Linked DNA regions of Homo sapiens. The protein of the gene in region 2 purifies or fractionates together with the protein of the main gene of each other region. This does not show direct contact. Each region holds a gene or a part of one and is shown on either strand. Other genes may lie near its edges.

The links.
Region 1: the proteins of INKA2 (region 2) and CEP128 purify together in Homo sapiens (affinity purification with mass spectrometry; 3 studies listed by BioGRID and IntAct, with this or other methods). This does not show direct contact.
Region 3: the proteins of INKA2 (region 2) and CDC42BPA purify together in Homo sapiens (affinity purification with mass spectrometry; 3 studies listed by BioGRID and IntAct, with this or other methods). This does not show direct contact.
Region 4: the proteins of INKA2 (region 2) and CDC42BPB purify together in Homo sapiens (affinity purification with mass spectrometry; 3 studies listed by BioGRID and IntAct, with this or other methods). This does not show direct contact.

What each region holds. Positions count from the first base shown.
Region 1 is NC_000014.9:80,497,678-80,504,937, forward strand, and holds part of CEP128 (centrosomal protein of 128 kDa), read right to left. Parts: coding exon 7,235-7,260; intron 1-7,234.
Region 2 is NC_000001.11:111,722,396-111,729,395, forward strand, and holds part of INKA2 (PAK4-inhibitor INKA2), read right to left. Parts: intron 5,410-7,000; coding exon 4,573-5,409; 3' UTR 1-4,572. UniProt on the Homo sapiens protein: Inhibitor of the serine/threonine-protein kinase PAK4. Acts by binding PAK4 in a substrate-like manner, inhibiting the protein kinase activity.
Region 3 is NC_000001.11:227,028,301-227,035,560, forward strand, and holds part of CDC42BPA (serine/threonine-protein kinase MRCK alpha), read right to left. Parts: coding exon 7,171-7,260; intron 6,495-7,170; coding exon 6,355-6,494; intron 5,116-6,354; coding exon 5,034-5,115; intron 3,215-5,033; coding exon 2,998-3,214; intron 2,171-2,997; coding exon 2,108-2,170; intron 951-2,107; coding exon 357-950; intron 1-356. UniProt on the Homo sapiens protein: Serine/threonine-protein kinase which is an important downstream effector of CDC42 and plays a role in the regulation of cytoskeleton reorganization and cell migration. Regulates actin cytoskeletal reorganization via phosphorylation of PPP1R12C and MYL9/MLC2.
Region 4 is NC_000014.9:103,054,338-103,062,276, forward strand, and holds the start of CDC42BPB (serine/threonine-protein kinase MRCK beta), read right to left. Parts: upstream 3,213-7,939; 5' UTR 2,837-3,212; coding exon 2,662-2,836; intron 1-2,661. UniProt on the Homo sapiens protein: Serine/threonine-protein kinase which is an important downstream effector of CDC42 and plays a role in the regulation of cytoskeleton reorganization and cell migration. Regulates actin cytoskeletal reorganization via phosphorylation of PPP1R12C and MYL9/MLC2.

The DNA.
Region 1 (7,260 bases), on a different chromosome or scaffold from region 2:
ATTTGATCGAGTTTTCTATAATTAAACTTCACATGGACTAACAGACCTCCAAGCTAAGAATAAATACACTCAATTTATGACATTTAAAAAAAACACGAGAATTAAACTTTTTATTTTATTTGAAGAATACCTGAGAGTAAAAAATGTGTGCTTCGTCAGGATACAATGATATAAACCACACCGGTGTGCACGTGCACACGCACACACACTTGCACACTCGCAAAGAATTTTAGAGGCAGAAATCTTAAGGGCTCCTTTTTATGGAATCCTCTTTATTACAACTTCTAGTCTATTGAAAGTAGACCTGGAGTTTGTGTTTACTGTTCTTTTACTATCTCCTACTCCTCGTCTGAGCTATAGATGCCTATATCCAACTGTCTGTGTGAAATCTTCTCTCCTTATCTCTACTCTCTGATGCCTGCTCATTCCTTACTCTTCTCCAACTTGAAAAATGATATACCCGTCTGCCCAGTTTCTCAAACCGTGGTTCCTCTCTTCCTTTGTCCTGTCTGATCCATCCATTCAGTTTAAGAGCGAGCTCTAATGACTCTCCCTATCAATTTCACCTGAGTCCTGATTCACACCATCCCCATTACTCTCATCAGCCCCCAAGTCACCATTGTCTCCCTTTCTGTTTTCTTCTTGCTCCCTTACGATCCTTTCTCCACACCACAACCACAGTTACCTTTCGGAAAAGTCAATCAAATTACGTCATTCTCCTGCATGACTCCCTCATCCTGCCCTTAATGGTCGCCCAGTGAACTCAGAATAAAATCCACACATCTGACTGTGGCTGCACCCTCTCACTCACTCGCTCAGTAGCCCGTATCTCTAGGAGACCATGGCCCTTTCTTCTCTGGAGCTTTTGTACTTTTTGCCCCTACTATCAGGAAGATGCTTCCCATCCAATTTCAACTCAGCTGCTGCTTCTTGCCATTCAGGTTTCAGCTGTAACCTCCTCAGGGAGGCAGATCCTGATCACCAATCTAAAGGAGTGCTCCTGTTCCTGGTACCTTCTATCATTTCACCTTTATAGCACCAATCACCATTTTAAATGATTTGTTTACTTGCTCGCTACTTGTTTCTCCATGACATCACCTTGCCTGTCCTGTTCACTGCTGTATACTCCAGAACTGAACACTGGACATGGTACACAGCCTCCTAGTAAATACTGGTTGAACAACTGAATATAGGTGAGGGATTTTAAGATGACAGCCAACTGGGGATTTTCTAGCTGGTTTCTGGAGCGCCTCTAGAGAGTACCTTGTCAACTTGCAAAAACCAGAATTCAATTATTTAAAAATATCCGGCGTTTAACCGATCAGTAAAAAATACCTGAACCACTGTCACATAAAATAAATCTGTAATCACATAAAATAAACCTGTAAAATGAGAGAGACAGAGAGACTGCACTTTCATAGAATTAAATCCTTTAATGGACAAGAAACAATTTTATTGCCTTTATCAGTGTCCTAGTGTTTTCATTGCCATTAATCTTTGGCATTTTACTCTATAAGGCTGAGGACAGGTTACATATGAAGCATCTTTTCACAGTTAGCCGGGTAGACCTTGAAGTATAACACAGAAGTGAAAATAGTGTGCTATTCTTGCTGTGGATAAATTATTTTTCACCCCACGGACTTAAACTACCATTAGAGGCACCTCAAAACACAAAGTGAGAATACTAACTTTTCTTTTTATAGCAATGTAAACTGAGGTAAGAAAGTGAAATAGTATTTTTAAGCATCTTTCATTAATCTGCTTTTCTAAGAATATCAAATTATCTGTAAGATTCACTTTCAACTCCTATACTAATCCTTAGATAACATATTTTCCCCATGAAGAATAACAATTCCTTCCTTTTGGGCTTATTTATTTTAACAAACATTATGTTTTCAAACAGTTTTAGATTTACAGGAAATTTACAATCTGCATTTATTTTTAAAATCTGGTTTGGAGACACCAACTCCACAAAGATGAAACATTTTAGTCTTAAAAAACTAGAGATTTCTAGAAGTCATCAGATTACTATGGACCTCAGTGAAATCTGGTCTGGTCCCAGTCCTGGGATGTGATGGCTGTATCCTGGAGTTGTGTTCCTTTAGTCTAAAAGGAGCTATACATAGTGACTAGTGGTCAGTTGCCACTTTTGAAAAGCAAAAATGACAGTTTCAAAAGCTGACATTATGAGTCCCTTACTAAGCCCCCACTGTCTACAGGCTGAAGGTAATGGAATCCAAGTCTTCTAAAAGAGTGTCCTGACTCACGGCCATAACTTCCAGCAGGCCAGGATAAATTTGGTAGTGATCATGCCTTTAAATAATGGATTTCTGTGTTCCTATTTCCAATGGCAATATAAACTTACAATTTATACATTTCTTCCCTTCTTCCTGGCAGAAGGAATCTACCTTTTCTTGAATTGACCTGAACTACACAAAGCTGACATAAATTACTTCTTAAAACAAACTTTCATTAATGCTGGATCACTTCAGAGACCACAAATTATGCAGTATTTTCCCATTTCCTTTGTTTTTTCCACGGTCAATGATTCTATGCTTTAGTTTGGTCACAGTTTGACAGGGCATCTAAGTCAGCAGAATGAATGCCTTAGCATCTACAGCTTCAACGAAAGGGCCTCACTCAGTACAAATTCTGACTAGAGTAAGGAGCTGACTGTTCTGTGGGCCCAGAAACTCATGTCTGCCTAAGGACCTATGACTATCCACTCCCTATATCTCTATACAGATCTAAACTGCTCCAAACTCCAAACCCCAGCTTTCATGTTCCACCTGAGACTTAACAAAAAAATTAGACATTTACTAGTCAGACATTAAAGCTGGGGTTTTCTCAGTAACACTTGTCTTTGTAAGAATCATTTTTAGCCAGTGTATATACACATATCAAATAATACCAAAGGGTTACATAGAAAAACAGGAGTTTCTTGTCCTACCTCTCTGAATTCCACAATCCCACTCCCCAGAGTCAGCTATGATCACCTCTTCCAGTTTTATTTTCTGTATTTATTTCATTTTTGTAAAACATGGAGAAGCCTATATTGCTATTTTCTGATTTATATTTTTAGACATTATCCACACCCACCCCCTTCTCCTCACCCCATACTCCCAATATAGTTACATATGAGCTTTTAGTTATATGACTGTTTACATTATTATGACTAAATATGGCTCATGAAAACATAGTAAGGATACTATGACATTTCTCTTCTTGTTCATTTTTTCCTCCTGGGTTTATTAATTGACTCTTGTTTTAATTTTATTTCTTTTTATTTGCTCTTTCTCTGTGACCATCTTGCTTCTAAGTGCTCAGTTAGATCTGCCATATGTCCACTAGTAGTCTTTTTTTTTTTAAGTGTTCAATCGTATCAGATATCTATTAGCTTTTTGTTTGTTTCCTGCAAATTTTCTGGATAGAATCTTTCCTTTCTTCCTTCAGTGTGGCAGAATTGAAAAACATGAGTGTCCAGATAAAAAGTAGCTAGAAGAATAAATAAAACAAGACCCACACTGAGGCACATCATCACAAACTCACTGGGGTGAAAGAGAAGATCCTAAAAGTTCCTGGAGCGAGGAGTAGAAAGGATGTGGTAGGGTAGGAAGGAGGCGCAGAAGATGACTTCAAAGGAGTGACAGTCTTTATCTACGAATGAAGGATTTTTCAACAACAACATTGGATTTTGGAGGATAATTGTTCAATGACTTCAGAGAGAGAAAATCATTTTCAACTAGAATTTTATATAATGGAATAAATCTACTTTTAGAAATACAAACACTAAAAATATTTACCTCCTTTTCTTTCTTTCTTTTCTTTTTCTTTTTCTTTTTTTTGTAATGGAGTCTTGCTCTGTCACCCAGGCTGGAGTGCAGTGGCGTGATCTTGGCTCACTGCAACCTCCGCCTCCCGGGTTCAAGCGATTCTTTTGCCTCAGCCTCCCGGGTAGCTGGGACTACAGGCACCCGCCACCACGCCTGGCTTATTTTTTGTGTTTTTAGTAGAGATGGGGTTTCACCGTGTTAGCCAGGATGGTCTCGATCTCCAGACCTCGCGATCCGCCCACCTCGGCCTCCCACCTCCTTTTCTTTGGTGTGCTCTTGAGGTAGGAGGTGGGACTAGACTCCAAAGGCAGGGCTTCGACACCTGCCCAAATTGAGGACTAGCTAAAATGGGTCTCAAGCAGAAGCACCTCTCCATAAGACACGTCCACAAGTGTGCCTGTCAGTTTATCATTGCCACGGCAACACGACACACCTGTCGCCATTTTCCTGGCGAAAACCCAACAACCTGGAAGTTACCACCCTCATCCCAGAAATTTCTGCATAAGTTGCTCTTTAATTTGCATATAATTAAAAGTGGTTATAACTGTGAGTGCAGAACTGCTTCTGAGCTGCTGCTCTGGGCACACTGCCTATGGGGTAGGCCTGTTTTGCAAGGAGCAGGACCTCTGCTGCTGCTGTACACTGCCGCTTCAATAAAAACTGCTGCTAACACCACCGGCTTGCCCTTGAATTCTTCCCTGGGTGAAGCCAAGGACTAAGCCTCAATTTTGGGGCTTGCTTGTCCTGCATTACTCTCATAAAAGAAAAGAGTGAAACAAGAAAGAGGAAGGTATAGGATCTGGGCACACGGGCATCAATATAGGAAAAGAGTGAAGGACAATCTCAGGATGGCTGCTGTGCAGTGGGTGTTTGTTGGGTGGGCCTGGCCACTCCTGGCCTCTTGTTCTGTTTTCTCTGTTCTCTCAAGACGCACATGAATCATCTATTGCCCCTCCTGAATTGCTTTTCTAAAAATTTTATCTTTTCTCTCTATTGTCTCATTCTTTTTCTTTTTCTTCTCCTTTCTTTGTGGTTATTTCACATTGTTTTCCACCTTTCTGGTTTTCTTTACTCTTTATGGCAATCATATTTTAAAATTCTGACACCGCTTAGTCTGTGTCCCTTTTTCATAGTATTTTGCTCTTGTTAAATGTAGTGGATTTAATATTTTCTCTTATCTCTCAAAGGGTATTAATGATATTCTTTAAAACATCCTCTGTTCCCTGTATTACTCATTTGCCGTAAGTTCTGTTTTCCTCTTTGTTGGTCTCATCTCTTCTTTTTAATTCTTCAATTTAAAGGGAGATTAAAGAAAAATTACAGGACAATTTCTGTAACTGAGCTGAAATTTTGCTACAAAAAATGAAGTATTCAGGGTAATCCTAATGTTTCTCACTGCTAATGTGCCCCATTATTAAAAACAGAAAACTTAAGGCTTATCAGAAAAGCAAATAAGAATGTTTTCTAGAAATAATTATAATTCAATTACTTGAAAGTAATTAATGATAAGGTAGCTAGGATTAAATTTTTTAAAGTATTTTTGAAAATATGGGGATAGGTCTGGGAAGAAAATCATAAAACAAACTTGTACACAAGAAAAATAGTAAAACAAGACTATGGATTAATCAGTTAATTAATTTACTAATTAATTAAACTAATGAAGAGTTTTACTTTTTAGGTTAAATTTTTCAGTTAGATTTTACAATGTAAACTATAATAAATGTTTTCTTTTTCAAATTATGCTCTTGATGATATATTTTCCTATTTAACTTTATTTCCTTTTCAGCCAGTGTATATCTATAGAAACCTATAGTTGCTTGTGAGAAATATATCTTAGAGAAATGACCACAATTGGTCATGAAATGCTAGTGTTGAAACCTAAATACAGGTTCTTTCACTGCCTATCATAGTACTAAATACAATTCCAAAATCTTGATGTTTTCCATTTAATGTCTTCTAACCACTTCCCTCTAGGTGCATTTCTAGAAAGGCTTATGAAGGTCATAATGGCAAAAGTAACAGCAGTATAACAATCTGTTTTCACATTATGATGCTGTTTATCTCCAGGCTCTTGAATGTCTGACTAATTGGGACACTGTGATGTTTCATGGTGTGAAGTCCCTACTTCCACCTCCATGCTTGTTTATATTAGAAGGACTTGGAGAAAGTTTTCCATTGCTAAATATGAAAGAAAAAAAATTTGGCCTATGTGTATATCAAATTCTGAGGTGCCATAACCAACTTGAGGTCCATATTGAAGGGTGGTTCTTGGCTTATGTAGATACAAAATCACTTGGGAAAATGATTAGGACAGGAAGACAAAATGCTCAGCATTTAGACTAAAATAATCATGAAATAATGAAAAACCACACCACTTATCAGAAATCGATAAATATTTATTCAATGAATCCATGAATATAAACCAGCAAAAATAAGAGTTATCACCTTTGGATTTGACCTACTTCCTAGTGGCTTATTTTGGCATTTTATTTTACAGCAATATAGCTATATTAAATGACAGAATTATCAAATTTAATGTATAACCCTACAGGCCCATGGTAAACTGAAGAGCAAAATTATTACCTAAATAAAAATCCATTAAATAACATTTGGATCCCAATAGTTTAGATAAATGTGGACTTAACAAAAACAACTTATATGTATATTAATTGAATATTAGTTGAGTATTTACTATTTGCCAACTACTATATAGAGTGCCAAGGAAACAGTGGTGAACAAAACAGGCACTCCTCCTATCCTCAAGATATAAAGAAAAATTGTAGCACACTGTGGGTGCTCATAACAGAGACTACACTTCAAACTGTGAAGCTTCTTTAAGGAAATTACATATAAGCTGAAACTTGAAGACCACATATAGGAAGGAAGGGAGACGGCAGGGATAGATCGTGGCAGATGGCATTTTGGGCCAATGGACTCATACATTGTTGATATTGATGATGACATTTATCAAGATTCACAGAGTGAAATCTAGCAGTAATAGTATTCTTACTCTTTGTACAAGATTACATATTTCTCAACATTTATATGCAAAGAACTTCAATTTTTTGATAATTTGAACTTTATTATAAAATAACTTTCTTTACTCATTCATCCATAGTTACTGGCAATCTCCAAACGAAAAATTTGCCTAATTAAGATTTTCACCTTGGGTGGTTATTTAAGTTATTCTGAGAAGCGTAAAGTCTAAAAAGGAGGGATTCTACATATTTTTAGTAAACTGTGTACTATTATGAATATCCTTGAACATTTTTTGTATGATTCATGAGGATTTTCTCAGACTTATGAATATTACTATCATATACTGGCCTTAAACTAATTTTCCCATGTGTTGCATTTTCTTAAATCTAATTTAAAAATGGGTACAAGACTTCATTACTTACAGTTCACGTATGAAAATCTTGGACTA
Region 2 (7,000 bases):
TTACAGAGCAGAAAGAGCAGACCAGAGGCTTCTCAAAACCACTAGGACTTGGCACTTTCAACTCTTTACCCCTTGCCAAGAATTTGAGGTCCTTAAGGGTTGACTGTGAGGGGCAGCTAGGGTGTAGGGAGTGGGAATGTTTCCTAGAGCAGGTCCTTAGGCAGTGGGGTCCTCAAGCACCTTTTCTCCAAGCTCAGCCTTTCTCCACCTCCACACCCCCCGCCTCCCCAGTGCATGTCATCCTTTGGGGAACAGTGTAAATTTGCCATTTAGCAAATAACAGCCCATCTGGGTGGCTAGTATACAGTGTACAAAAACATGTCACCTATTGTCTTCTCTGACCCTTGCTACAATCCTGTGAGATATTAAATCAATATAAATGTTTCGACAGAAGAAGAGACCAACGCTCAGAGAAAGCACTTTTTCTTAAGCACTTTTGCCTTGGGTCACATGGTTAGTGCCTCTACTAAGGGGATGGGTTGTCCAGTATCTGCTGAGCTTCTGCTGTATTCCAGGCAGTGCTTGGACCGTAGGTGCATTATGTCCTTTAAATCTCACAGCAGCCCCACATTATCACCTTTCACAGATGAGAAACACAAGGTTCAGAGAGATCAAGCAACATGCTCAAGCTTCCACAGTGACAGAGGGGGCTCTCAAATCTTAACTCCAAGTCTAGTGCTCATACCATGGTGCTGGCAGAAGTGCCTTAACTGCACCGGATGGGGAAGGCACCTGAGGTGGGTTCTGGCTGCTCTGGAGAAGGTGGGGACAAGGTGTGCTCTTGCTCTTGTCCAGACCACGTAGGAAACGATGGTGTGACTTGGGAAAGATGGAGGAGCCTCTCCCCAACAAGGCCCTAGGGAGGAGATGGGGATGTGGAGAGGACAGAGCAACCTTCTTTGGGGCAAGTTTGGGTTCAGAGATCACCCTGAGGGGCGGGGCACAAGGGAAGTGTCTGAGGGAGAGGGAAAAGAGAGGTCCCAAGTCTGAAAGGTTGGGAAGAGAAAGGGAGGAGGGAGACCAGGCCGGCCCCACTAGCATGCCCAGCAGGGACTCTTTTCTGTTCCCTGGGCCACAAAGAAGCAGGTGGAACCTTCCACAGATACCTGGGCCAATCAGGTGGCCCTTGTACCTGCCAGGGAAGTGGGGCAGGGTGGGGTGGGGCTACATGTCAGGGAGGATATTAAATGAGCTTCTAGCTCATTTGCATGTCCTAATTAACCACAAAGTGCGCCCCAGAGGAAGAACTAAGCTCTCTGATTTCTCTCTGCTTACGTCTGCTATCTCCTCCACATACACACTGCTTACCTCTCCCTACACCTTCCTGTATACTTAGGCCCTAGGCATTTGCATTCACCTCTTCCCTCCACTTCAGTAAAATACAGCCTCTGTCATTGCCATGGCAGGTGTCCAGGGGGAAGGGAAAAGTAAGTCTCCATCAGACAGTCAGCATGCCATTTATGATCCACGCAGGACCATGAATAATATGAGAGGACAGATTTTGCTCTTGTTCCTCTTGATTTGGCTTTGGAACAGATATGGACAATTAGTGGGATCGTCTGAAAAGCACAAGATTGCAAGTCAGTTGGAACTGATTCAATCTCAATTCCACTACTGTGTGACCTTGGACAAGTTGCTTAACTTCTCTGAGCCTGTCCATGTAAAACAAGAGCAACTGCTTTCAGTGTGTAGTGAGAAGGAAGTAACAGAGGTGAAGGTGCTGGCACTTGTAAATCATGTTGGCAGCAAGTGTTGCTTCCTAATTTTTTGTTCTGGCCCAAGTTGAAACAAGTTTTCAGTCTCCCAAGTCTCTTCTGACTAACCAATGGTTCAAAGTCTGCTTATTTTCCACTGCATCCATTTGAGAGCAGGAGTTGGGTCCTTCTCATTGCTCTGTTCTTAGTTTCTATAACAACACCTGGTGCTGGGAGGTGTTCATAAAGTTCTGTTCAATTTATCCGAACCACTGTGACCAGTCCACGAAACACGTGAGTTATAGGTGAATGTCCAAGAAGTACCTTGGTTTCCCACAGACTCATTCCAGACTTGGAGCTGGTGTCATCTTGAATAATATGCTAGATGGCTTCTCCACCAGCCAGTGTCCCACGACTTCCTCCGCTCATGATTCAGTAGGTGGAATCTTAACATGCAGTTTCTTAGCACGCGCAGGCACACACACACACACACACACACACACACACACACCACCACTACCACCACCACCACCACCACCTCCACCATCTCCACCTCCAAAGGCAGTCAGAGCCAACGTTCCCTCACTCAAAACTGAAATGTTGGTATTCTCTGGGAAGACACAAAGGATTTGCAGTGGCTGGCTCCACCAGAGTGGGCTTGCTCAGTTGGCAAACTCCAGGTAGAGAAATAGCAAGAAAAGGACAGGGGTTTTGGAGCCAGATAACCCAACCCTCTGTTCAAATCTCTGTCCTTTCCTTTGCTAGCAGCCTAATCGGGGCAGTTTACACGCCCCCTAATAACCTCCATAGATGTGTCTGGAGAACAATGCCTTCTAGGGTCCTTCTAAGTTTGAGAGATGTGCACATTACCTGACAGACAGTGAGTGCTCAACAAAACCCAAAAAGCATGAGCGCCTTCCTCCCTCCTGCAGCTCCCCCACCAAAAATGAAACATCTTACCATTTGACTGGGTAGGATTTGAGAGTGACCCTAACCACCGCGGCTGCGCCCCCATAATCCCATCTTGAGCTCTGCCCCTCTCTCCACTCTCCCCAGGGATCCAGGAAGCAAGCAGAAGAGCCTTTTCTTACTATTTTGCCTCTCCAACTGGCTATTAATGCTTTGAGGGTGGGAAGGAATCCTGCCTCTAATTGCAGCTGTCACACCCCATCAGGCTGAGGGACAATCAGTGGGAGGCAGAGAGGGGCAGTGGGAGGGTGTGCCCTCCTGGCTTGGTCAGCCCAAAAGAAGATCCACATTGTCTTTTCCCAGCCAGTGAGTGTTCCCTACTGGAGTGGGAGGGACAGTGGCTTCCCAGGGCAGTCCTGGGGGGGGGCCTGGATCACTAGGTGGCCCTCCTGGGCCACGTGCCCAGAGTGGCTTTAGAGAAGCCGGAGCTGAGCTGCTGCCTGGCCCTTCCCCCTCCGTCCCGGCTGCCTCTAGGTGAGGAGGGAACAGGAGGCCTGGGACTGCTGTGTCTAGTGGGGAGAAGGCCACGGAATGGAGCTGGGAATTTTAAAATCAAGTGGCTATTTCTTCTGGGTTCACTTCTACCTCACTGGTGAATTGGCTGTTCTCTGACCCAGGTGGGAGTTAAGTGCAGGAGACAGGGGTTGTGGGGTATGGGGCCCTACGAACTGTTTTTTTTTATTTTTTTTGAGACAGGGGAGTCTTGCTCTGTCAGCCAGGCTGGAGTGCAGTGGCATGATCTCGCCTCACTGCAACCTCCCTCTCCCGGGCTCAAGCAATTCTCCTGCCTCAGCCTCCCAAGTAGCTGGGTTTACAGGCGTGTGCCACCACGCCTGGCTAATTTTTACGTATTTTTTTAGTAGAGACGGGGTTTCACCATGTTGGCCAGGCTGGTCATGAACTCCTGACCCCAGGTAATCCGCCTGCCTTGCCCTCCCAAAGTGCTGGGATTACAGGCGTGAGCCACAGCGCCCAGCCTGCGGGGTGCTAAGAACTGTTGGGGAGGAGTGTTGGTAACTCCAGGGTCCAGCTTCTACTCTGCAGTTAGACCTAGGCTGTTCTGCCTCCTGGCTGCAGTTGTTCCTGGACATGTAGCATATCTAGGCTTGTTTCCTTATCTGGAAAATGGGATCATGCCTGCCTGCCTCGCTCACTTTCAAATGAGACCATGGAGATGAAAAGGCATTCAAACAGCCCAGTGCTATGTCAACATCCTTCCCCTGTGCATGGGGGAGACGCGGGGAGTGTCTAGGGCTTCCCTGGCTGCTCCTTACACACTGTACTCCTTATTCAGCTCATTTTCTCAGAGTCCAGGTATGGACTGAAACCTCCAAGGCAGAAAGGGCTAGCAGGTCGGGTTTTGCCTCACTGCTGCTCCAGTCCCAGGAGGCCTGGGGTTCAGTCCCTGTGCCTGGAGCAATGTCTTGCCAAAGAAGCTGACAGAAGGTTGGGAGAGCCATAGACAGGTCTTTATTTGGGGGCCTATCTGGGGAACCTGATGCTCCAGGGCTCTTTTCCATACAGAATGTTCAACGGAGGTCTTTGGGGGCAGTGGAGATGTCAGAGGGATTTTCTGATCTCCTCCTCTGCCCTCACCTACTGTCACCTCCAGCCCCAAAGTGAGTGCATGCATGCCAGACAGACACACACATGCACACACACACACACACACGCACAGCTCACTCTCCAGCTACTCTTACCTCCTCCACCAGCTAGCCCCCAAGACAGCCTCTCCCAACCACCTTCCCTTCAGTCCTGAGCCAAGAACTCTGGCTTCTCCCCGCTTTCTGGGGGAAAGGAACTTGGAGTTGGGCTTTCGAGAGCCATACCGCCCACCCTCCCTCCTCCCCAGGGGCCCAGCACTGGGACCTGGCCCTTTCAGGCTCAGTCAACTTTCTGTCTCTAGGATTCAGACCCAAACAGCTGTGTTAATATCAAATCCTGAGGGTGAGTGCTCCAGGGCCTTGGGGCAGCTTGTGGGGGGATTCTCCCCTCGCCTGTGCTCCCCGGTGCCTGGGAAGGGGAAATGTCCAGAGCCCTTGGAAAGGCTCCGCTTCTTGACCTTCTGTGAGCGGCCGGTTCGGGACTCAGGGACCATGGGTGTCACCCAGCCTGGCTTCTCCTTCAGCAGCCGGTCACGGTCAGGCCGCACACTACGCAAGAACTTCTTAAAGATGTTTGCTGTCAGGGCGAACCTGCGGCCCAGCTCCTGGGGCTGGCCTTTCTCTCCTTTGGGTTCACGTGCCCCCCCAGTCTCACCCTTCTCCCCACCCTTCTCCAGTTCTGGCAAGTCTAGCCAATTGCCCACCAGGTCTGCAAAAACGTTGTCCCCTAACACCAGAGGCTGTCGATTCCGGCCCCGGGACATCAACGTGGAGGTCCAGTCATCCGGTTCCACTCGCTCTGGCCCCTGCTGAGCACAGCTTTGATGTGGCTGTGTCCTGGGCAAGGGGGCTAAATCCCTTCCACAGACACTCCTATGGGATGGAAACTTGGTGCTGCTGCCAAGAGAAGGTTGACTGGAGGGGGAACAGACTGTGGGCCTGGCAGGACCTCTGCCACCCTCCCAACAAGGGTGCTCGCACTGGGTCCTGGGACCTTCAGGGCTGCCTGGCACAGGACCCCCTCCAGAGATCTCCAGCTGTTCCAGTGCTGTCTGCACCTGGAGGAGCTTCAGTTCTTGCAGTGCACCCATCATGCAGTTCATCTGATCCTGTAAGCCATCACCCACCTCCTTCATGGACATCTGCAGGGGAGAGAGAAAGCATGGGGCCTATGAGCCACAGTGGGCAGCAGTGCCTCTCCCAGCCCTGAACTTAGGTCCCCCACCCAAACATACACTTCCAGGGTCATCCAGCCTGCCACCAGCCCCATCTCTCTATAGCCTAGTGCAGTGCAGATCAGTGCTGGGTAAAGGAAATAATAATGGTAGCTAACTAGCTAAGGCAGGCACTGTCCTGAGAAGGCTCCCCCACCCCATACACACACACACACACACACACACACACACACACAGACATTTCATCTCCCCAACTACCCTATGAGGTAGTGACTATTACTGTTCCCATTTCACAGGTAATTTGCCCAAGATAAGATAGTAAGAGGTGGGGCTGAGATCAGCTTGAAGTGCACAAAGCTGTAGTGCCCATCCTCATCCTTTTTTGAGTCTGAGCGCTCTTCCTCCCTGGGCCTCCCTGAAATGATGACAGTGATGATGGCGGAAAAAACAATATGAGAATCTGCTTTGTAACAGGAATTGTGCTAAGGACTCTATGTGCTTCATCTCATTTCATCTTTATATAGACCGTATGAGGTTGCTATTTTCTCATTTTAACAAACGAGTAAGCTGGAAGGGGTGAAGTAACTTACGTAACGTCACACAGGTCATAGAGCTGGGACTCAAACACGGTACTGTCCCACTCCAGATGCCATAGTCCTAACTACCAAATACAGGTTGAGCATCCCTACTCCAAAAATCTGAAAGCCAAAATGCTCCAAAATCCAAAGCTTTTTGAGCCACAACGTGACCAAAAGTGGAAAATTCTACCCTGACCTCATGTGACAAGCGGAAGCCAAAACACAGTCAAAACTCTTTTATGCACAAAATTATTTAAAATATTGTATAAAATTATCTTTGGGTTGTATGTATAAGATGTATATGAAACATAAATTTCATGTTTAGACTTGGGTCCCATCCCTAAGATATCTTATTGTATATATACAAATATTCGAAAATCCAAAATCCAAAACACTTCTGGCCCTAAGCATTTCAGATAAGGAATGCCCAAACCTCCTGTACTACCTCGAGACTCGAGATGGCTGGGCAGTGGGCAGTGGAGCTAGGCTTTTTTTTTTTTTTTTCAAACAGGGTCTTGCTGTTTGCTGGGCTGGAGCACAGTGGTGACTATTCTCAGACACAATCATAGTGGACGGCAGCCTCTAACTCCTGGCCTCAAGTAGTCCTCTGGCCTTAGCCTCCTGAGTAGCTGGGACCACAGGTGTGTGCTGCCTGCACCCAGAGCTGGACTTTAAGGCTACTCTGTCCTCTACAGGACAGTGAAGAAGGGCTGAAAAGGGCATTAGTGGAAAAGGAAGAGCTCAGATTCCCCAAGAGAAAGGGTAGGCCTGGGGTTTCCTGCAATTGCTGTTCATATCTGACTGGTCAGAAGGGAGACAAGGAGGCCAGGAAACTCCTGTTTGCTGAAAACCCAGCGCTTCTCAGCCTGCCTCTCCCTCCCAAACACCTGTCCTCTCTCAGCTGTTCTCAGACTTGGCTTCAACACTCTTCCTGCCTTCTTAGCCCAGTTGGCTCTGCCGCCCCGGCCAAGCCATAGTGA
Region 3 (7,260 bases), about 120 Mb from region 2:
TCCAGAATAAGTTCTGTGAAACACTGATGCTTACAAGCACCATATTTTGGGGGACCATGAGATAACAATTCTGGGTTATTTCAAAATATGATGTGGGGTAAAAAATCCATCTTAGTGAAATATTCCACAGAAAGATGTTTTGTTTAAATTACGTGCATGCTAATGCTGGCCCTGTTTGCCCAGGCCTAACTACATATGGTTTTTACATCAACAACATAATCAATACTGAGGAAAAGCATTAAGAATGACTTTTTTAAAAAACTGTTATCAACAATGACAACATTTGGGAGACGAAGTAGAAGGGAAAAGGAAGAAGAGATATAAAGATAAGACAGCCGTAAGAAAGAGAATCTTACAACAAGAGGAAGGATTTGCTGGCCACATCAATTCCTGTTGTCTAGATCTTCGGCCCTGGCAGTCAGTGTATATCCCAATGCTGTTAAAACACAGCAGATATTCTTTACTGGAGATCTCAACTGCGCAGATAGCATCCATTGGTTGATGTGCAATAAATGATAGTGTATGGTCATTTGAATGGAGCATACTGTATGGATTTCCTTCTCCATTCAAGGGGTATCTTAGAAATCCTGACTGGAATCCCACACAGAGTTGTTCACTGAAGATTGCCATCCACTGGACATTATATGGGACTTGAATTTCTTTAAATTTTCTGTGACGGGTCTTGCTCTGAAATAGTTCATAACAGAGGACCTGCCTTTTCATAGCCACACACAGGCATGTGAGAGCTCCATGGCGCACCTTTCCAGAAGTTACGGTTTGACACCCTTTAGTTTCTGACAGCTTGTAAAAATCGGTCTCTCGCCCATCCAATGCTGACATAGGAAAAAGTCGTACATGACGATTTCGTCCTGAGATCACAGCAACAAGCTGATCATTTGGAATGAGTTCAATCTGATGAATCTTCTTATTGTCACCAACTCTAATAATTTCTAAACACAGAAAGAATAATAAATCAAAATATAGTTTTATTGATTAATCATATCCCAATTATACTCAAAAGGATGTAAGTCAACTTACAGATGCACATACGGAAGAATAAGACATCAGAAGTCACAGGAAAAAAAGATTATCCAACCCATCATAAGATAATTTAACTCACCTATAGTACGTATTAAATTTGAGTCCTGAGATTTCTGGCAGCCAAGGCAAACCCCAAAGGATTCTTGTGTAAAAGTATGCCAAATCTTCAAGGAAACTTTTCTACTGGCACTAAATTCTAGGGAACGTCACCATAGGATTCCCATTTTTAAAAACAGAGAACTTATTTTTCAGAAGTTTTTATATGGCTAACAATGCATTGTTTTCCCATGATCTAAGTTGACATAAAGATAAAACTTAGAATACTGTATTTATGAATACCAAGTTATATTGGTTTCTCTTTATTTCACCCAGCATTTAGTTTTTCCCTAGAAGAAAAACCTCCAAACAAACACATTTTAATAGCTGTTGCCTCTTCTGGTACTAATAGAACAATGTGAAAATCAAGTTGTATATATTTTTTTTCATGTTCCATCTTTAGAAATGCAATCTGGGCTGGGCGCAGTGGCTCATGCTTATAATCTCAGCACTTTGGGAGGCCAAGGCGGGTGGATCACCTGAGGTTGGGAGTTCGAGACCAACCTGGCCAACATGGAGAAACCTCATCTCTACTAAAAATACAAAATTAGCCGGGCGTGGTGGTGCATGCCTGTAATCCCAGCTACTGGGAGGCTGAGGCAGGAGAATCTCTTGAACCCAGGAGGCGGAGGCTGCAATGAGCCGAGTTCGTGCCACTGCACTCCAGCCTGGGCAGCAAGAGTGAAACTCTGTCTCCAAAAAAAAAAAAAGAAATGCAATCTGAGTTCGTACAGAACTGTTAAATAAAATGATACAAGAAAGACAATACATATTTGAAGTTTTAAACCTCAGGGGGATTATAGAAATTTAAAAATAATCTTTTAATTTATAAACGTCAAATTAGGTCTGGAAAATTTTAGTCGCAGGATAAATAAGAGCAAATCCTGCTCTTTGTAGAATTTAGAATCTACAGTTTAAATTTTTTTAACACGATTTAAAATTACTCCAAAAAAAAAAAGTTTTCTCTTACCATCTTTGGTGACATGTACAACAAATAACCCTTCTTCGTTTCCCAAAGCAATTCTTTCATGATCTATGTAAGACATGAATGTGAAAGATTTTTATTAGGAAAAAAACCATGTAATGCTAATAAACCAGATGATAAGAACATTTGGTGCAAAAAATGGAAATAAAATGAATTACAATAACAGTTTACACTATTTCCTTTCAGATTATACTGGTAAATCTCTCATGTCTTCTAAAATAGAACAATTATTAAAGAATAATCCATATCAATACTTACAAAAAGAAGTAAATGTTTAATAAATGATGAAACAAAATGAAAAACCTAAGTTGTTCTACACTTATTGTTTTGGGAGGTAAAAATTGTGAATGGCATTTGAACCATACTCATTGAACTTTTCAGTATTTATGGAAAGTAACAAAAGAGTTAGATGCATACACAGGAATACAGCAAAAATTTAAACCTCCAGACACAGAAACTGCCATTTGTTAAGGGGATTTCTTTCTTATGCAGGGCACTCTGTGTTATGTATTCCATCTTATTTAAACTTCCCAATAACCTCAGCAAGGTAATTACCATCTGTATTTTATATATTAAACTCTAAGAAACTAACTTGTTCTAAATCACACAAGCAGAAAATAGATTAGTAGGCTAATGCTTAGCACTGTTGTTTTTTCAGGAAAAAAAAGGCACTTTGAAAGTGTATTTATACTCCTGTTTACTGAAAAACAAAGATCTGATATAGGTCTCATTCATTCAGTAAACATGTACTGAGCATTTATGATATGATGCACAGTATGTTGGACACTGGGGATTCCTAGATGAAAGCCAATCCCTGTTCTCAAGGTAGATTAGTAAACAATGATAATAATATGATAAATGTTATAAATTCATACCTATGATTGCGGCTGCCTGGGTTGTTTTAATGAGGGGTAGAGTGCTGTCATAAGCCTCTTTGGGAACATAGACTGAGCGGTCTCTGAATTTGTTTTTCTTCAAAATCTTGTGCAATTCACTCAGCACTCCCACCCACTTATTCTTCTCATTCTCAGTGTCTGCTAGCATCAGGATTGAACATTTGTTATTAGATGCTGAGAGCTGGGAAGCTGTGACCTAGAACAATTTAATCAATATTCATGATATTAGAAAACAGACACCCTTTATGCTAGTTTCATGATTATGTTAGTTTGCTTAGCACTCACCAATAAAATAAGCATTCATTAAATGATACCATTACTGGAGTTCAGCTATTCCTAATCAGAATAACTACCTTTAGCACTAGAATACATGACAAAGCAAAGGTGGCAGACACCATTTGAAATGTTAGTATCATTTTCATTTTCCTTCTGTAAAAGTGCCAGAACACTATCACTAAAGAGGCATTAAATATATAACAACAACAACAACAACTGACATTTATTGAGTAAATACTGAGCACCAGGTAGATCTAAGCACTTTACAAGTATTAACTCATTTAACTCTGTTAACATCGTCATGATTTAGGATGTACTGTCATTATATCCTTATTTTATATATGAAAAAAATGGTGATGCAAAGAAATTAAATCATTTCTCCAAGGACATACAACTACAAGTCTGGGATCTTGTGCCCATGCTCTTAAGCGCCACACCATACTGACTTGTGACTTGTTTTAAGGTCAGAAGTGCTCAGAAATATATTCTCTGTTACTTCACAACAATAACTCGCATTATCATTAAGATTTGACCATTTAAATTAATATTTAAATGAAGGTTTATCATTATACAAACAACACTATCAGAGCAGTTTTAAATTTTACCTATATGAATTCCTTATCATAAGTAAAGAATTCCTTATTAAGTAGCAGTGACAATAAACTCACACTATGAAAATCAGTTATAGATAAGTGGGCCTCTGTAGGCTCCCTTGGTGGCTGGGAGGAAAATAAATAGTTGTCAGTCTGGGAACTAAGAGACTAAGTATAATCTTTGCCTGACCTTCCTTAGATACAAGATTCATAGACAAATATAGGGAGATAGGCATAACAATTGGGCAGTAGTTTTTTTTTTTAACCTCTATTGTCTTAATTTACCCACTCAAGATTGCATCGTGGCAAGGGCCTCCAAAGACGCCTACCAACAAGTCCTCCTAAGGAATTCCATTCTTCTCATCAAGAGGTGGAGTCTATTTCCCCTCCCCTTAAATCTGGGCTGACCTCATGACTTGCTTTGACCAACAGAATGCAGAAGGGTTATTATACCTGTTTTGGGCCTAGTCCTCAAAGGGCCTGGCAGCTTATTTTGCTCTCTTAGAAGCCAGCCACTGGGAGCTCAGCCAGCCTACCTGACGACCAGAGACCACATGGAGGGAGTTCACAAAGAGGAGAACTGAGATCACCCAGCTAACAGCCAGCACCCAGATGTAAGAGCAAGGTCATTAGATGTTCTGGTCCCAAATGAGCTGAATGCAGTCACATCAGTGACACTAGCGGACACCACAAGAACTGTACAGCTGGTCCACAGAATAGTGAAAAATAGTAAATCACTGTTGGTTTAAGCTACTAAGTTTTGGAATGGCTGTTACAAAGCAGTAAGTAACAAACGCATTAATTTTTCAAGACAGACATTTTTATTTTTTTAAAAACTTGAGAAACCTCACACTTATCTAATTTTCCATGTGGTAGTATTTATTTAAAAATTGAATTGGAACTAAAAAATATTATCTACCAGGAAGCATATTTTATAAGCCATATATTGATGCTTTCTCCAGGTCTTTCACTAATTAAATACTTAGCACCAATTTTCTATACCTTCAAGTACTGGATGATATGGAATATATAAAAGAATATAAGATTTGGTTTTACTTATAGTGAATTTATGATTTATATAGGGAGGCAAAATATACTCATTAAAAACACATAATTCAGTGATCAAATTACAGCATACACACTTACCCTAAATATACAGGGTATATCTTTCCGACTTGCATGGATAACATCAGAAGCCAAGACTGAACTCACAGAAAATTCTTCATCCCTGAACGAAAAGCAAAGCATTAAAAGTTACTATATGTGGCTATGTGTGTGTGGTTTGGGGTGTGTATCCAAATAACACATACCCAAAGCTTAACTGCACCAAACACCCAAATTTAATTTTTTAAAAAAATTAATTTTCCCCCATTGTAATTAATAGTGCCCCAAATAATTTATCAAGAATAACTTCCTAGTGGCACATTATACAAGAGCTAGAAATCATTGCTGGCTTACCCACAGTCACAAGGCCAGTTAAGTATACACGTAGAACTGGGATTTGAACCCTGGTAGGTCTCTGGAGCCTCCAGTGGACCCTCTTGCCTCCCATAATAAATCTTAAGTACCCTCAACCCAGCTCATGTTATATTTTATTGTTCCTTCAACATCTACAACGTATTTCCTCCACAATAATTTCTTGTGATTCCCTTAATTTTGTTGTTGGTACCATGACTCCCTTAGTCTTACAGGCTTGACACCTTAGTCCTATTTGTGATTCTTTTCCCTATCTATATTCAGTCCCTTAGTAGGTTCTATCAGATTTTTCTTGCCAATATTTCTTGCATCTATCCTGTCATGTTCCATATTTGTAGGGGAAGATAATGCGTTTGAGATGCCAATGTGAAGTGCCAATTTGAGTCACAGCTAGAAATTCCGGTTTTGAGCAATGGATGGATATATCTGAACTGGAGATACAAGTCTGGGAGTCATCAATGCAGAGGAGATGGCTGAAGCTGTGAGTAAATATGATCACTCAAGGATAGTGCCTGGAGTTAGGAGAAAAGGTAAAGGAGAGAGAACTAAGGAACACAGGAAGAATCTGAAAAATGAGACCAGAAGTGTTCAAGGGCTGTACTTACTTAAATGTTTACTGATTATGTTTTCCAGAAGCCTTTCTGATTTTTATTTTCTTTCCTCACATTGAAATTATACTCTAAGCCTTTAGGTGATGTGATAATATAAACTTCACATGGTAGGCCTCCATTACCCCATTTACACAGGTCTTTGGGACACCAACTTCTTTTTCCTTAACTCCTAGCCCCTCACACTCAACACACATACCAACCTGTCCTATAAATACACCTTACTTCCTATTTTCAATTCTGTTTCTATAGCAATATTAGCAAATTAGAAAATACGAAATTAGTTCATTTAAATAAACCATGGCAACACAATTTTTGAAAATCAGAAACTTTAAAATTCCTATGTTGCAATGATACAAATAATTTTACCTTCAAACTCTTACCTCATGTCAATCACTTGACTAATGACAACACTGGGCTGAGATGCTTTTCCTTCAGCAATATCGTACAGAAAGAGTTTGAAGTCACACACTATAGCCAGTGCTCTCTGCCACCCTTTCTTCACTCCAGCTGGCTTAGGAATCTTAGTTTTGTTTTAGACAGACAAACAGCCAAAACAACTCAAATGAAAATATCCCTTAAATTACATATGTAATTGCATGGTGAAGACCTACAGATAATGTACACGTTTTATAAGTCTGCCATTCTGGTTGGTAAAGTAGCAGATGAGACACATATCATTAAGCTATGAGAAAATGTGAGAACACATTCTTCAAATACAGAATGACTTTTTATTCTGAGAAACATTTTAATGGTACCATTTTAACTTTCACTCATATTTCATTAAAATAACACTCATGGGTTTCTTTCTAAATAGCATAAAAGTCAAACTTGGTGTAAGATGAAGTTCAGCTTACATTGTAAATACTACCCAAGATAACAAGACTATGCCTTAATAGCTCATAATTCATAACCATATGCCACCTCTCTTGCAAGAGCAGGGGCCACAAACTCCTTTATGAAGATTTCATCACAAGATAGGAACAATATGGAAAAACTTGAGACATTTTATAACTTATTTCCATGTAAAAGCTAGGTTTTTGTTTGCAAATCATTATTCTAGATGAAATAAAATTATTAGATGAATTTTATTCATTTAATTTTCCATCAAGAACTATCCTCTTAAACTAACTGGATTTGATTTTAATTCATTAATAAATCTTAAAGGATTAATCTAAACCCAACTTAATCATACTTACCCTGACATGACCTTCATATGCTGTTCCTATTCCTTTCTGAGGATCTATACCCAGGGGACCTTTTGTCTGTTCAGGAGGAACTGGACAAGT
Region 4 (7,939 bases), on a different chromosome or scaffold from region 2:
TTGGCTTTTCCACGTGACAGGAATCGACATATCAGAGGTTTCAAATGTCATGGAGTGGTGAATCCAAAAACTGAACAGTCCACTGATGGACAGCCTATATGTGTTTCCTGAGCAGAAGTAATTCCACTTGGAAGTTAGAGTACCTAATATTGCTCTATAAATAGTTTTATTCAAAAACATTATTCTGTGCTTTCCAATCGAAACAACCAGGCAATTCCAAGCAACATTAAATACTAACTGCACACATGTTAACTAGAAATACACCACTTTAGAGTTACAATGACGTATATGTTAACATAAATGAGTTTAAATACTTGTAAAATATATTGATATTTCATTAAAACACCACCTTCTAAGTCCATTCTTCCCTATAATTGAAAGTTTATACTTTTGTGCAAACTGAGTTCCTGAGAATAATGTAGTTTGTAATCACAATTTCCAAAGAGCCAGAATACAACTTTGAAAATATGTCTATGTTACAGCACAGTTCCCGTTTAGATTTGGAAAGGCCAGATCTCATAAAATATGACCTCCACACATGCTGACAAGAGCTTCCTCCAGGGAAGCCCACCAGTAATGCCTGGTGGAGAGAGGTGGCTGCACAATGGCCCCCAGGGCCCCCGCCCTCAGACTAATCTTCTAGGTCCCAGGCCAGAGGCCAGTGGGACCACATCTTCCCAGCAAAACCAACTTTCCCTCTGCTTCCTCTTCCCAGTCACACTCACAGGTGGTGCACCAAGTTGAACCTGACAGTGGAACTGTGTGGGTTTCAAGATCGAGTGATCAGAAAGGAACGGTAAACAAGCTGGGTGCAGTGGCTCACGCCTGTAATCCCAGCACTTTGGGAGGCCGAGGCAGGTGGATCACCCGAGGTCAGGAGTACAAGACCAGCCTGGCCAACACTGTGAAACCCCTTCTCCACTAAAAATACAAAAATGAGCCGGGCATGCTGGTGCGTGCCTGTAGTCCCAGCTACTCGGGAGGCTGAGGCAGGAGAATTACTTGAACCCAGGAGATGGAGGTTGTAGTGAGCCAAGATCATGCCACTGCACTCCAGCCTAGGCAACACAGTGAGACTCGTCTCCAAAGAAAAGAAAGAAAAGGTAAACAAAATATTCAGATTTTAACATGCACCAAAGACCTCACTTTCAAAGCAACGGTGAAGTCAATTAATTATTCAGTTGGAAATCGTGTCACTGACAAAGGACGCTAGAAAGCAAATACTCTTAATTTACTGATACTATAAGTAACCAAGAATGGTGGTTCCCACGGAAATAAAGCATCACAGGCTGTCCTTGATCTCAGGACCTCTTTCTACTGCTGCTCTCACAAGATACCGTGTAACATTTCACTACAGAGTAATCCAACAGAAGCCCTCTAAAGAATATTGCAACTTAAGTTTTATTTGTAAACAAAATTCCAAATTCCAGTCACCAATCTGGCAGAGTAGAGTAGGAGGCCTGGAGGCCTCACTGTGGAACACTTTCATTTGTTTCTTCGTATAAATATCAGCTTTATCAGCCCCAAAGATTAGAAATTACTGGTTCGAACTGAACAGTCCTAGCCCAGTGACGCAAATGACCCAAGGATAAGGTTTTCATAGGTTTGGCCTGAACATACGCATTTCCTCCTCCTACTCAGTGGTTTTAGGTGAGACAGTCTGAGGGTCTTGACCGGCACACCCGTTAGGGAGAGATGAAGTAAAAGAGTTTCACGCTGCACTTTTACCTGTCTTTAGGATCCTAATTATCGTTAAATGGTTTAATCAAATTTTTGTCCTAAAAAAGCATAATAGGTTAGCTGACCAATGATTAAAACATTATAGATCCGGAACGAACTAGAGAAGGCATGCAAAATTCAGATGAGAAAGTTTCTAAGTGATAGCTCCAGCTACCCCTCCAAATATCACAAAGGTCTAGCAGAATTGGAATTAAAAAAAAAAAGTCCTCTTGCACGGTTTATTTAAAATAAAGCCTTAACCTTAAAATTCCCTTGAAGGTGTTACAGCAAAGTAGGTATTCAGGCTCTGACCAACAAGGGGATGTAGACAGGCTGTCACCCAGGAGGGGCCGTTAGAGCTGGGCTCCCTGGGGATGCAAGGGGGTCCCACGGGGCAGTGGGCGAGGCAGATGCAGAAAGCACACCCAGCTGCCCCCACAACGCAGAGAAGCGTGGGGTGGGGAAAGGGAACTAATTCCACACTGCCTCCGGACCCCAAAGGCGAGGTGCGGGGGCGGGGGCGGGGGCGGGGGCGGATATCCCAGTGAGTGCTGCAGGAAATGATATCCAGACTCGGAGGGTGGATCTAGGAAGCCGCCAGGGCGAGGGCCCGGCGGGGGGGAGGGGGTGGGAGTGGGAACGTAGGATGTGGCTCCAAGGGGCAGGATGAGGGGGCGGGACGATCGAACGCGGATGTCGAGCCTAGGGAGGGCAAGGAGGGATGAAAAGCTAGCGGAGGGACGAGGGTGCAAGGAGCGGCTGGAGAGAGATGGGCTGCGGGCCTGGGGGCGCTGCCAGAGCGAGAGGAGGCGAAGCCCACGAGCTGGGTGGGCAGGAGGGCGGCAGGGTCTGTCCGGGCGGGGATGGGCGGGCGTGGGGATGCGCGGGCTGGGGCGCGGGGGTCGCAGAGCCGCAGGTCCGGCCCTGCCGGCGCGCACTTACCCCACTCGAGGAACTCGGCCACGTACTTGTCGCGGCGCAGGGCCGAGTGGCTGCACTCGGTGTACAGGCAGACGAGCACGTCGAGCAGCGTTTCCACGCTCAGGGCGCTCTCGTTGCGCCAGGGCCCGTCCAGGAGCAGCTGCTCCAGCTTCTTGAGCCGCACCTTGGCCGACATGGTGCCGCGCGGCCCGCTCCCGACGCGCCGGCCTCTCACCGCCGGCTCGGCCAGTCCGTCAGGGCGCGCCCTCGGGGGCTCGGCGGCTGCGAGCCCCGGCAGCAGCGGCGCCTCCTCGCCGCCCCGTCCGCGTCGTCGCGCCCCGGCCTAGGCCGACATCTTGGGCTCCGTCCCGACGGCGCAGAGTCTGGGGCGCCGGGCCCCGCGGGTCCATGGGCCGCTCTCCTCCCCTCGGCGCCGCCGCCCTCCCAGCTCGGGCGGCCCGCCCCCGCCGCCCTCAGCCCCGCCCGCGGCCGCGCCCTCCCCGCCGCCGCCGCCGCAGACTAGGAGCGGCGAGGAGCCTAGCGCTGCGCAAGCCCGGCCGGCGCCCGAGCCCGACCCCAGCCCCGACCCGGCGGCCCAGCCCCGCGGCCCGCAGCCAACCAGGGCGCGGCCAGCACCAGCGCAGCCAACCACTACGGGGCCGGCCGCCGCCGCGCTGACCTCAGCGCGCCGCCCCGCCCCGCGCCCGGCTCCCTGCTCCCGGCGGGCTCGGGCCTCGCCGCTTGCCGTAGGGAGCCGGGATGCTGGGAAGGCAGGGCCGGGCCTGGGGAGCGGCGCGGGGTGGGGGTGGGGGGGGCGGGGCGGGGCGAGTGGGCCGCTGAGATTGCGGAGCCCGCGCATGCGCAGAGCGCGCCTGGTGGGCGTGTGCGCCTTCGCCCTGCGGACCCGGTGCCTTCAGTATTCGGGGTCCGACCGCGCGCGTCGCGGATCCCGGGGCCGAAGACGACCCCAAGTATCGGAGAGGCAGAGTCGCGATCTCAGGCCGTCGAGCCCCGTCCCGCAGTCCGCGGGCCCATGTTGCCTGCGGGGCCTCGGACCTGCCCGGCCGAGGTGGGGGTCGAGGGCGGCCCGGCAGGCGCAGCTCTGATGGCCTCGGCGGGTTGTGGGCTATTTAAAACGGCTTGTCCCAGCTCGAAGCGGTCCTGGAAGACTCGGGCCCTACCCCTGACTTTACCGATGAGAGACTGAGGCCCAGACGGTGTGGGGTCAGGGCCCAGGCTTCTGGGGGATGCTGCCAAGGCGGGAGCCAGCGTCCCCAGTGCCCGGTGGATTCGTGATGGCTTGCAGAGGGTTTCAGTTTCCACTGTCCAGCCCTCCCTGCAGACCAATGCCTAGGTGTGACAGTTTGGTAGGAAAGGGGCCGGATATTTGTCTCCAGGCTGGGTTTGCCTAGCGAGTCGCTGCATTTACTAAGATTGTTGGTTAATTTGGGTGGCTGGGGGAGGGAGGCTGATGGAGATACCCCCCAACCCCAACAAACCCTTGGCGTCAGGAGAGGAGGGGCTTTTCCTGGAGCTTGCGGAAGGTCACCGAAATCGTGGGGGTATCTGAGAGCTTCTGGGGCGCGCGGGTGCAGGGGAAGGGGTCATGCTTCCGTGGAAGCGGTGGCCTCCAGGTGGAGCCGATGAAGGGGCAGATAGGGGTTTGAAGCAGGACGTTAAGGGAGCCTGAAGCAAAACTAATCTCTGGAGCTAAAAATAGGAGTGGGCCTGGCGCGGTGGCTCACACCTGTAATCCCAGCACTTTAGGAGGCCGAGGTGGGCGGATTGCCTGAGCTCAGGACTTCGAGACCAGCCTGGGCAACACGGTGAAACCCCGTCTCTACTAAAATACAAAAAACTAGCCGGGCGTGGTGGCGCGCGCCTGTAGTCCCAGCTACTCGAGAGGCTAAGGCAGGAGAATTACTTGAACCCGGGAGGCGAAAGTGCAGTGAGCCAAGATCGCTCCACTGCACTCCAGCATGGGCAACAGAGCACGACTCCGTCTTAATAATAGTAATAATAATAAGAAGAAGAAGAAGAAGAAGAGGAGTGGCTGCCTATGCCGGAGTTGTTGACTGGAACAAGAGGAGGAACCTTCTGGGCTGCTGGTAATGTTCTATGCCTGGATTTGGGTAGTAGTTACATGGGAGCACGCATAAGTAAACATTCTTCAAACTGTCTTCTTAAGATGAGTGCATGTCACTGTGTGTATGTATATATAATACCTTCATTTCTTAAAGGCAGGTGAGAACAATCTGGCGTTAGAGGTGAGAGTACTGGTTGCCTTTGGGGTATCAACTGGAAGGAGGCACAAGGAGAGGCCTCTAGGGGGCTGGGAACATTCTGTATCTTCAGCACAGCCGTTTTGTAACGTTGGGTCTGTAAATGTGTATAAATTCATCAAACTGTATTCTAAATATTTGCATGTTACTATTTGTGTATGACACCTTAAAAGTTTTTTTTAAAAAGTCTGAGCAGATCACCTGGCTCAAAATCAAAGTTAAATCTTCCCCCTTGGACCCCTTAGGGCCTGAGATGAGCAAGGGGAAAGGGGGCTGTGCCTGGTGCCATCTCCTTCCCCAAACCTCCCTCGGCTCGCTCAGCCCACTTCCACCCATCTAGAACCACCACCGGGAAGGGAGAAAGGGAGAAGTGGGGAAGGGCTCCAATCCCATCTGGATTGGCAGAGGGTAAAGCTGACCCTGTCTCTCCTGGGAACATTCATGGGCTCCTCGGTGGTTCCCTGCTGCTTTGTCTCCTGAAGTCCCCTTAACTCAAGCAGATGTGCCACTGGGTGGATGCTTACCTGGTGGCTGTGGAGGGGAGGGGCCCTCTGCCCTTCCTGAGGGACTTTTGGACAGGACCTAAATGGATCCATGGGTCTTGTGCTTGCTCATCCACCCAGCTCACATCTGTCCTCAGGAAACACTGGCACACTCCTCGCCCCAACATTAGTGAACAGGTGGGTCCCAGCACAGCAGCATAGCTCTGCCTCTGAAACAGCACATGAGCCCTTCCTGCCACTGTGCCCTCCAAATTGAGTGCCAAATATTGAGCTCTCTGAGAAATCCCTTGGAAGCCACCCTCACAGGCTTAAAGTGAAGGAAGGAGTGCCTGTCCTCTGTGTCCCCTGGCAGGATCACCTGACCAAACTTTCTCTTCCACTCTCATCTTTTATTCCTGAGTGTGGGACAGATTCCCAAACATTTCTCTTGACAATCTGCCCATGGCGATCTGACATAGCATTTGAGAATTCCACATCTGCTCTCTCTTCTTGCCTCCTGGAAATTTCCATTTACTGTTCTTATACATTTACAAATGTACAACAAAGGTCATCGTGCCTTTGGTGGACAGTCCTTGTATTCGTCTGCCCTCGCTTTCTCTCTCTCCTGAGCCCCATGCCCTGTGAGTCTGTGCTCCAGCTCCACTCTGATCATAGGATTCTAGAGGGGCTGGCACCAGGGTGGACATGTGACCCAAGACCCTAGCAGCACTTCATCCCCCTTCAGTCATGTGACTGAAGCCAGGCCAATCAGAGAACTTATTTGTTTATGTATTCATTTATCTATTTATTTTTTAGAGACATGGTCTTGCTCCGTCATACAGGCTGAAGTGACTTGGCACAATCATAGCTCACTGCAGCCTTGAACTGCCAGGCTCAAGTAATCCTCCCATCTCAGCCTCCACAGTAGTGGGGACTACAGGTGTATGCCACCACATCTGGCTAATTTAAAAAAATTTTTTTAGAGAAGGAGTCTTGCTATGTCGCCCCGGTTGGTCTTGAACTCCTGGTCTCAAACAATCTTGCTCCCTCAGCAGATAACTTATTTAGAATGTTTTATACTGGCTGGGTGTGGTGGCTCACACATGTAATCCCAGCATTTTGGGAGGCCAAGGCGGGCAGATCATTTGAGGTCAGGAGTTCGAGACCAGCCTGACCAAAATGGTGAAACCTTGTCTCTACTAAAAATACCAAAAATAAAAATAAAAAATTAGCTGGGTGTGGTTGTGCACACCTGTAATCTCAGCTACTTTAGAGAATGAGGCAGGAAAACTACTTGAACCCAGGAGGCAGAGGTTGCAGTGAGTCAAGATGGCGCCACTGCACTCCAGCCTGGGTGACAGAGCGAGACTCCATCTCAAAAAGAAAAAGAAAAAGAAAAAGAAGGCCGGGCGCAGTGGCTCACGCCTGTAATCCCAGCATTTTGGGAGACCGAGCTGGGTGGATCACTTGAGGTCAGGAGTTTAAGACCAGCCTGGCCAACATGGTGAAACCCCGTCTCTACTAAAAATATAAAAATTAGCGGGGCATGGTGGCGCATGCCTGTAATCCCAGCTACTTGGGAGGCTGAGGCAGGATAATCACTTGAACCCGGAAAGCGGAGGGTGCAGTGAGCAGAGATTGCACCAGTGCACTCCAGCCTGGACAACAGAACAAGACTCCATCTCAAAGATAGTAATAATGATAAATAAAATAAAAAATAAAAAGAATGTTTCATACTAAAACTGGGAGAGAGAATTTCTTGTCCTTTCCTTTAGACCAGGGGCGGGTAAACTTTTTCTGTAAAAGGCCAGAGAGTAAATGTTTCAGGTTTTATGAACCCTACAGTCTCTGCATCTACCATTATAGCAAGAAAGCAGCCATAGACAATGTAGAAACAAATGAGCATGACTGTGTGCCGGTAAAACTTTATTTACAAAACAAGCAGCAGGCTAAATTTGGCCTGCAGACCCGTAGCTTGCTGCTCCTTGCTTTACAACACAAGCTATGATGGTGAGACTTCAGCTCAACAGCCACAACACCTGTTAGAGAAAGAAAGAGAAAAATGAGAGAGAGATCTGGTTACATGAAACAATAAATTTTCCTTTTCTCTTGGCCAGGTGTAGTGGCTCATGCCTGTTAATCTCAGCATTTTGGGAGGCCAAGGCGGGCAGATTGCTTGAGCTCAGGAGTTCAAGACCAGCCCAGGCAACGTGGCAAAACCCCGTCTCTACAAAAAATGCAAAAATTGGCCAGGTGTGGTGGCGTGTGCCTATGGTCCCAGCTACTTGGGAGGCTGAGGTGGAAGCATCACTTGAGCCCAGGAGGCAGAGGTTGTAGTGAGCCAAGATCACACCACTGCATTCCAGCCTGGGTGACAGAGCAAGCAAGACTCTGCCTCAAAAAGAAAAAGCAAATTAATTTCTGCTTCTAGCCTAGATGGTGTGATCAGGACCAGATTTACTCTCTTACCTGAAACAATGAAAATAAAAGAGAAAGAAAATGGACAAAACACTTAAAACAAGGATTTTCATGACA